Regions from separate parts of the Homo sapiens genome. Here region 1 is linked to region 2. The links come from fine-mapping of genetic effects on gene expression. A gene starts in region 2. The other region holds a variant in brackets. All regions are shown on one strand. Distances are from middle to middle.

Region 1 (4,262 bases), 140 kb before region 2:
TGAGTAGGAAGGCTTGGCAGCCAGGGGATGGGAAATGAATTTCCCCAAGTTGAAAACCCTGTACCCTTACTTTCCTTCCCATAAATTTTTCTGTAGTTCTAGGTAAATAATAATAATAATAAAAATGCAAATTAGGTGCTTTAGAAGGAGTATGTAATATCTGGGACTTTTTCTAAGTTGGTAGACCTAAAAAATGTTTTCAAAAATATATCTAGCTGCATTTCTACTGCTGTCATTCCTTAAAGCTCTTCCTCCAAAAACTCCATATGAATGAATACATTTACCAACTCAGTGATTACTAAATAATAGTACTTTATACTTATACACAGTAATACCTTTCATCTAAGGATCTCAAATGCCAATATATTAGTCATCACCCTGTAAGGTGGATGACATATTATTCCCATTATTCCAATGGGAAAATTGGGCCATAGAAAACTGAGGAGCAAATGACTCATCTACAGGAATTAAATGGAAAAAACAGGCTAGGATTTCTCAGCACACTTTAGGAGTGAATGAAAACTTACAGGCTTCAGTTCTACTGCTGGCCACCATTGGATTTGTAAGATCCAGGATGTGTATTGACCACATGTGTCCAGACCCAGGCTTAGGGCATCTGGAATGAGAGTGGTGGGCTGGTGTGTGGGTCTGAGGATCTGGATGGGAGACTGCATTTTCTTCTCTGTGCAAAATATGGAAGTGTGACCTTGAAGGTGGGCTTAGTCTATGGCCTTCCCCACTCCTGCTTGAACTGAAGCTGGAGAGAATGGGCATTTTTAAATGTTACGGCATATGCTAATATAATATTATGGCATTAAATAAAAACAAGAAGAGAACTGACTAAAACCAAAAAACCAAAAATGCAAGTGACTGATTTCCTTTAATTTTATCTTCTTCTTTCCCTACATGTATAGTTGTGAAAGCAAGATTTTTTAAAAGAGGAAATCTTAATTTAGATCGGAAACAGCGTCCCCTGGAAAAGGTTGCTTCTTTAAGCAAGGCCAGAACTGCCGTGGTTTTCATGGTAGTGTTGACTCAGGAGATTGGCCCCCCCAACATGGAGACACATGGAAGGCCTTAATACCAAACCCAGTTTTAACCACCCAGAGAGAGTGAGAGCCGCTCCTAAGGTGAATGGCTGTTCATCAACGAGAATATCTAGACACACTGATGTGTGATACGGCAAACTTGCAACTATGTTCAAGTAAAGTATCGGGCAGTTCCACACAGCACTCCTTCCATTTAGCTGAGCAGAGGGTCTCAGTAGACTCATCTCTGAAGCTTTTGAAAACCCCAAGCCAGGCTTCTCAACCCATGGAGACTCAGAAGCAGAGTATGGGTGACACCTGGGCATGTCCCTGAGGCACCACAGGTCGTTCTAAGGGGTGCCCCAAGTTGAGCACCACTGATCCAGAGCTTGCTGAAGTGAGGCCACCGGTGCCTAGTCTGGCACAGCCCTCCTCAGGATCTCTCCCCTCCCCCTAGTTGGTGAGGAGACGGGAAGAGAAGAGAGTAGGAGGGGGCAAGGTTTTTATAAAGATGGTGATTTACTCGAAGCTTGATTCCTTTTCATCTTGCCCTCATGTCTCTTCAGTCCTGGCCCCATGAGACTGTGCTGATCTGCATGCTGGCTCTACGTGTATTGGCAAACAATGCTGCCAGGTTACTCTTCCCTCACATGGTATTTCTCTGGCTGGCTGCTGCTTTCTCCTGGCACACAGTCTGTCTGGGTGTAATGTCTTTCTTTGGCCTTAGCTCTGGGTGAAGATTGAGGGAGGGCTATTCTGACATTTTTCACTAGACGAAAAAAGTTAAAATTAAACATAACACATTGTCCTTGCTAGCAGGTAACTCACTAAACCTAACGCACAAAAATTGGGTAACCTGCTATGTTATACGCATTGATCTTTTCCAAACTATATCTAACCACTAGATAAAATGTTGTCTCCTATTATAAAGAAAATTTGATCCATTATTACATCATGCATAACTGTGGAAGCTGGAAAAACAAGACATTAGAACTCAAAGGTGGGCCCAGTTTTCCAAAATGGACAATTCTGCTAATTCAGAATTCAGGAGACTCTGAGTAAGAACACCCCCTGCAGACCAACGGGAATAGGGCAATCTGAGGGAAAAAGAAATGTCACTTGGCATCCAGGAAAAGGCTCATCTGTATGGCTGTCAAAAACAAGGTGCTGGCACTGTATGCGGATGCAGATGAGAAGGCAGGCCATGCCTGTTAGAGACATTCATCTAGGTCATGGCCCTTGCCTTACACATAGGAGACAGAGATTCAAGAGAAGTGATTTGCCTGGAATCAAATGGAGAATTATGGGCAGAAAGTAAACTGGAACCTTTTCATGCCACATTGAGAATGCCTTCTGGGCTGATGTGGTAAATTGAGGCCTGCCCATAGCCTCTCCATGCTCTTTCTTGATTCATCCTCATAAAGTAGTTGGTTATCCATTTTGCAAATGTTTGCTAAGAAGAAAAGCCCCTGCTTCTCAACACACGCATACACCGCTAATGCATACACCGCATTAGCAATATCTCAAAGAAAACAAAGATATGCAT[A/G]TTGCGACTGGTTAAAATAATTCATAGTGCATTTTATATTCCAGAGGCATTGATCATTTTCAAAGTTATCTGCCTTTAGTTTAAAGAATTTACAGCTAATACTTGCAAAGCTACAAGAACCCCCACTGGTCAGGAAACATTAAATTCGATTATTAAAATGATGTGATTTTATATCCAGCATTACAGTGGATTATGCTAATGATGGTCAAGGTTATTAATCTTCATTGCCGTCACCACTGCAAATAATACATGAAGATTAGCCAAAATTAACTTAATCTGCTTGTAGCATGAATTTGAAATTTACACTTTATTTTTTCTGAGAACAAGTCACACTTAATAGCCTCTCTTAAAATGCATTCCTCCCCCCCGGAAAACCAAAGGTGGAAAACACGCATGCAATACCTGAGGGCGATTTCCTCTTCACCTAGGTAAAACGCTTTTCCAAACCTCTTCTGCTTCCTACTTTCAAACACTGGGGTATCACTTAAAAGCAATCAAGTACTTCTCAAGAAAGAATGCATACAGTAATGGGGCACCCACATCCCAGTCACTCATCAAGGGAAATGTCAGGTCTTCTGTAAGTGCCTGTAAGCTGTGATTCAATTGCCCTTTCTTAGAACACCCTCCTCACCTCCCACCTCTTGGAATGAGAAGGTAGATACATAACTCATCCTAAACTTCAGAATTTGGGAATCTTAACAAATTTACCCTTAGGATTTCCTACAGACTTTTTTCAATAATAACAATGCAATGTTTACTTGATTCACAAATTTGGGAACATAGGACCCTGTTTGGTGGCAGTTTAATTGAGAAAATGCTCGACGAGTATGGTCAGATCATCAATAAGAGGAACTGACATTCTCAGTTCTGTACTTGGAAATAAGATGTGAGAAAACTGTAGAGGACATTTATTCACTATCTCTAGAGCACCCATTCCCCAATTCTCTGCCAACAGCATGCAGAGTTTTCTTTAGTGAATTTGCCCTTCTCCCATCCCAACTATGCACTTGGGTGGGGTTAATACAACTTCCAGACCTCTGGTGGGCCATGGCAGGCTTAAGACAATCAGAGTACCTCATCACCCTAGCCAACGGATGGGCACAGGGCCCAAATCAGGCCAATGGGAGCAAGTGAACCCCAGAGCCCAGGGCTTGAGCCAGAGCAACCAGAAAAGACCCTCTACCCCAGGAGGGTGAGGTGCTGCTTGATCAGGAGCTGCTGCAACCCTTTTGTTTGATGAGGGGAGAGGGAGGAGTTGACAGAGGGCCACCATGTGGAACATGAGGATGAAGACCACCAAAGGCAGAGGGGAGAGGAGAGAAATGGGGACATTATGTGGCATAATAAGAAATATATTTTGGGTCTTTGTCCCTTGTTCCTGGCACAGAGCTCCTAAATCCCATGGGATTTCCTGGATGATAGGACCCACTTCTTGTTATAATGAGGTGACTCTTGCTGGGCTCCTGGATAGCTCCAAAATTGGAGCTGGTCACCAGAAAGACCAAGCTCTGATTAGAAACCTGGAACCTTCAGCCTAGCTAACATGGTGAAACCCCATCTCTACTAAAACTACAAAAATTAGCCGGGCATGGTGGTGCATGCCTGTAATCCCAGCTAGTCAGGAGGCCAAAGCAAAAGAATTGCTTGAACTCAGGAGGCGAAGGATGCAGTGAGCTAAGGTCGCACCA
Region 2 (4,253 bases):
TAATTTCCCCACAGTCACATCATTAGTAGTTGGCAGAGCTGGGGTTCAACACACTAAAAAAGGCAGAGTAGGGTACAAGGGCATGGACTTTGGAGACAGGCCTAGGAACTCTGTTTACAGACTGTATATCCTTACAGAGTCACTCCTTTTCCCCAGTTGTAAACAGGGGTAAAAATACTTACCTTGCAATGTTGTTGGGAGATTTACAAATATTTGCACCTGGGCACAGTGGCTCACACCTGCAATCCCAGCACCTTGGGAGGCCGAGATGGGCAGATCACTTGAGCCCAGGAGTTTGAGACCAGTCTGGGCAACATACCAAGACCCCTTTCTACAAAAAAAATACGAAAATTACCCAGCTGTGGTAGCATGCGCCTGTAATCCCAGCTACTTGGGAGGCTGAGGTGGGAGGATAGCTTGAGGTCTCCCGAGGCTGCAGTGAGCTGAGATTGTGCCCCTGCACTCCAGGGCGAGAGAGCAAGACCCTGTCTTAAAATAAATAAATAAATAAATAAATAAATAAATATATATATATATATATATATATATATATTTGCAAAACACCTTCGCTCAGGAAATAATTAACAGGAATTCCCACCACAGCCTTTTATGCTATCAGCTTGCACACACAGACACAAAGTCAACATGTAGCAAACTGTTCAGGCTACCTAAACCAGATAAATGGCCCCACGAAGACCAGGAACAGACTATAATCGTCTTTAAATACCCATACCCCAACTTGACCAAAGGAGGCCTCTGCAGAGGCAATTGAATAGTCTTCCAGCAAAGGCTAGCTCATTTTAGTACAAGTGGGAGAGAAACGGGGCAATCTGACCAGTGGTTTAAGGGCTGAGTTGGCCCAGCAGAATTGACTAGGCCTTACCACAGGCTAATAACACTTGCCCTTGGCAAAACGAACGCCAGCTCGGGATTTCTGTAGCTTCAACCAGCTTTGTCCTTTGTGATAGTGCCACCTAGCGAGGGTCCGGAGGCACTACCTACTCCTGGCAGCTGCCAAGACCACTGCGACAAGGTGTTAGCCATTTAGGCCTAGGAAAGGGAATGGGGACCACCCGAGTCAGCACTCCTTCCATGACTCTGTGGAGGAAGCCCATGCTGTCCTTCCCCCAACCTCGTCCAGACCCATGGGGTCTGAAAAGCGCGAAAGGCCTGATATTAACTAACACTTGTACATAACACAGCAGTGATCTATTATCATTCCTCATTTTATGGTGTCCTCGCATCGAATCCCTCCCTGGGAATAGGAAAAACAGGCATCATTCTCATGAGAGCCATTGTACAGATGAGGAAACTGAGACTCGGCGGGAAAGTGGTTAACCCAAGGTCACAAAACGCCATGAGAGCCAGGGCTGGGACGAGAATCCACGCCTCTTCCATTCCGGTTCCCGGCTCCTACCCCGACCACCCACCCGAGTGTGAAGACACAGCATGCCCACCCCCACGGGGAGCAGAGGCTCCAGGATCCTGCGCCGAAGACCAGCATGTGGGAGCAGGATAAAGACTGCACGGGGAAGACAGCACTTCTTTCTTCTCTGTCCATGGAGTGCCGGGCACGCTCGCCACGGCTCGGGGGCGGGGGAAGCGGCGCCCGGGGCAGGAAACAGCGTCCTGCGCGGGTAGCCCCTGGGAGCACGCGGCACCGAGTCACGTGAGAGGGGAGCGCAGGCGAAGGGGCGTCGCGCGCAAGCACGCACGACATACGCAAACTCGCACTGAGGCGCCCACAGAGGCAAGCCCCAGGCCCCGGGTCACATGTGGAGGGTGGCAGGCGAGAACAGGGGGGCGGGAAAGACGGAGAGATCACGTGGAGGAGGCCAGAGCAGGGAAGTCACGTGAGGGGGACGGAGGCGGGGCCGCCTAGGAGGAGGAGGAGGAGGAGGGGCGCGCGGCTTCCGGCGGCTGGGGGGGCCAGCGAGCGGAGGGGGGGGCCTGTCCCGGAGGTGGCGGCGGCGCCATCTTGGCGAAGGGGGGATCAGGAAGTGCGGACCGCGGCGGCGGCGGCGGCGGCGGCGGCGGCGGCGGAGCCCGGAGCGCAGGCCGGAGGCTCCCGGCCCGCCGGCCCCGGAGCGGAGCGGAGCGGAGGATGCAGCAGCCGCAGCCGCAGGGGCAGCAGCAGCCGGGGCCGGGGCAGCAGCTGGGGGGCCAGGGGGCGGCGCCGGGGGCCGGGGGCGGCCCAGGGGGGGGCCCGGGGCCGGGGCCCTGCCTGAGGCGAGAGCTGAAGCTGCTCGAGTCCATCTTCCACCGCGGCCACGAGCGCTTCCGCATTGCCAGCGCCTGCCTGGACGAGCTGAGCTGCGAGTTCCTGCTGGCTGGGGCCGGAGGGGCCGGGGCGGGGGCCGCGCCCGGACCGCATCTCCCCCCACGGGGGTCGGTGCCTGGGGATCCTGTCCGCATCCACTGCAACATCACGGTGAGGACCCCCTCGCGTGCGCCTCTGTGGGGGCCCCTTGTCAGGGACCCAGGATCACTCCATCCAGCTTTTTGCTCTCGAAGGACCTGGGAGGCCGAAGCCCCTCTCAGGGCTCAGTTCTTTCTCTCCAGGTTACATTTGTTTCTGCTGCTTGAGGTTATGCAGTGCACCCAGAATCTCTACCATTGACCCCAATAGCAAGGGACACCCCGACATATGGCGCCTAGACTACCCGTTTCCACGAACCCACCCACATCCCAAGGTTCATGATTTTGGCTCTTTTTGGCTACTCCTCCACAACTTTACCTTGCCACCTAGGAATGCGTCTTTCTTCCCCTTACTCTTATTTCAAGGTTTTAGGCCTCGGCACTGACCCTAACTGCAAAGACCTGGCCTGAAACTCACTGCACATTTCAGCGATGCCCCCTTCTCAGTAGTACCTCTGACTTAGGAGGTTGCCACCTGTGGGATCCCCGCCTAGGCATCCCTCATGCAGACCCTCTTGCTCTCTCAACTTCACCAAGTGATAGTTTGCAATTCATTGACTCCTCTTCCTTCTCTCCTTTGGATTCTTTTTCTGGTGTAACCTCTAACTCTCCTCTTTTTGCCTCAGCTGGTAGCAGTTCTGCCACTCCCCTGCCTGTTCCCTATGGATATGTCCATTTGCCCTGGGTTGTTGCTTTTCCTGGTAATGATAGTGATGTGATGTGCGAGGGCTACCCCCATTTATTCTAAGCAGTAACAGTTGCATTTCTCCCCTGTGAGCGTCATTCCATCCTAGGCATACACCTTACATGTCTCCTGCCTGGTCTACCCTCAGACATCCCTTGAACAGAGAATTGGCTTCTGCTAATTTGGGAATGTCTGGTACTGCATGCTATAGCACTTATATTGGTTGATGTTACCTGCTGTGATGGTATTCTCTCTACCGGAGCAGTAGCTGAAATGCTAGCAGACAGTACTTTATCCAGGCAGGCAGACCTAATCGGAGTAGCCTGGGGAAAGGCAGAGTTGTGAATTCTCTGCTACTTGGGGGCCTGAATTCAACTTACTGGTGTTTTCTGTCCGTTTTCTCAATCAAACCAAGTTAAGATTTGGTGAGGTAAAGCCTCAGTTTGGATTGATTGGTGCCCCACCAAAACTCATATGTCCCATTTCTCTTTTCATTTCCTTTCTTTTTTCCTGCTAGAAAGTTAAAATTGAAGGACTAGGAGTGGCTTAGTTAAGTGAAGACTTGGGCATCTTTGATAATTATTTTTCCTCCAGCATTGAGGATTAGAGTCATGGCAATGCTAAGATACCCAGTAGAGGTGGATAAGGTTTCCCTGGCTTGTGTGGGAACCTCGAGTTAATTTTGTTCCTGAATTAAGCTTCTAATTCCTTAAGGGTAGGTTTGCCCCTATCCAGCTGCTCTTTCTGTTGCCAGAGGCCATTTACTGCGTTTGTCCCTGGCAGGAAGTTAAATTTAGGGGGTCCTCAGCCAGACTCCCCATGGCTATAAAGGAGACTTGGCCTAAACTAGCCCCCTTGGTTTGGGCAGAGAGGGAGTCTGGTCAGGCTGCATTTGGCACCGTGGCTCAGGAATGCTGGGAATGTCAGTAGCGTAGGCTTCTTTCTCCCAGCCTGCCATGTGGAGCCCTACAGCCCACGCCTGGACTGAGAAGGTGGCAGGTTCCCAAGGGAGAGGTGGGGAGAATTGGTCTTTGAGGGGCTCTTCTGGAAGTGGTGTGGGTAGATTCTTGCCAGTACCCTTTTACTCTTGGGTTCTGGAGATACAGTCTAGTTTTTATACTTCTTCCCTACTGAACTCTGCTTTTTTCAC

Evidence for each region. PIP is the estimated chance that this variant, and not a neighbour inherited with it, causes the effect. A credible set is the group of variants that fine-mapping cannot tell apart.
Region 1: its variant is the best candidate, but not a certain one, in a credible set for the expression of UBE2Q1 in whole blood (INTERVAL, PIP 0.81).

The regions. Positions count from the first base shown.
Region 1 is chr1:154,694,054-154,698,315 of GRCh38, reverse strand. KCNN3 (potassium calcium-activated channel subfamily N member 3) reads left to right here. Exons shown (of 8, transcript NM_002249.6): 8 at 1-861. Among named protein-coding and RNA genes, the nearest start is that of ADAR, 88 kb to the right of the region's middle. The variant A/G (reference allele first, on the strand shown) is at 2,575.
Region 2 is chr1:154,556,405-154,560,657 of GRCh38, reverse strand. UBE2Q1 (ubiquitin conjugating enzyme E2 Q1) reads left to right here and starts at 1,996. Exons shown (of 13, transcript NM_017582.7): 1 at 1,996-2,431. The coding sequence starts at 2,105. RefSeq lists enhancers at 980-1,560, 1,561-2,142 and silencers at 1,512-1,601, 1,722-1,811, 1,902-1,981, 2,302-2,401.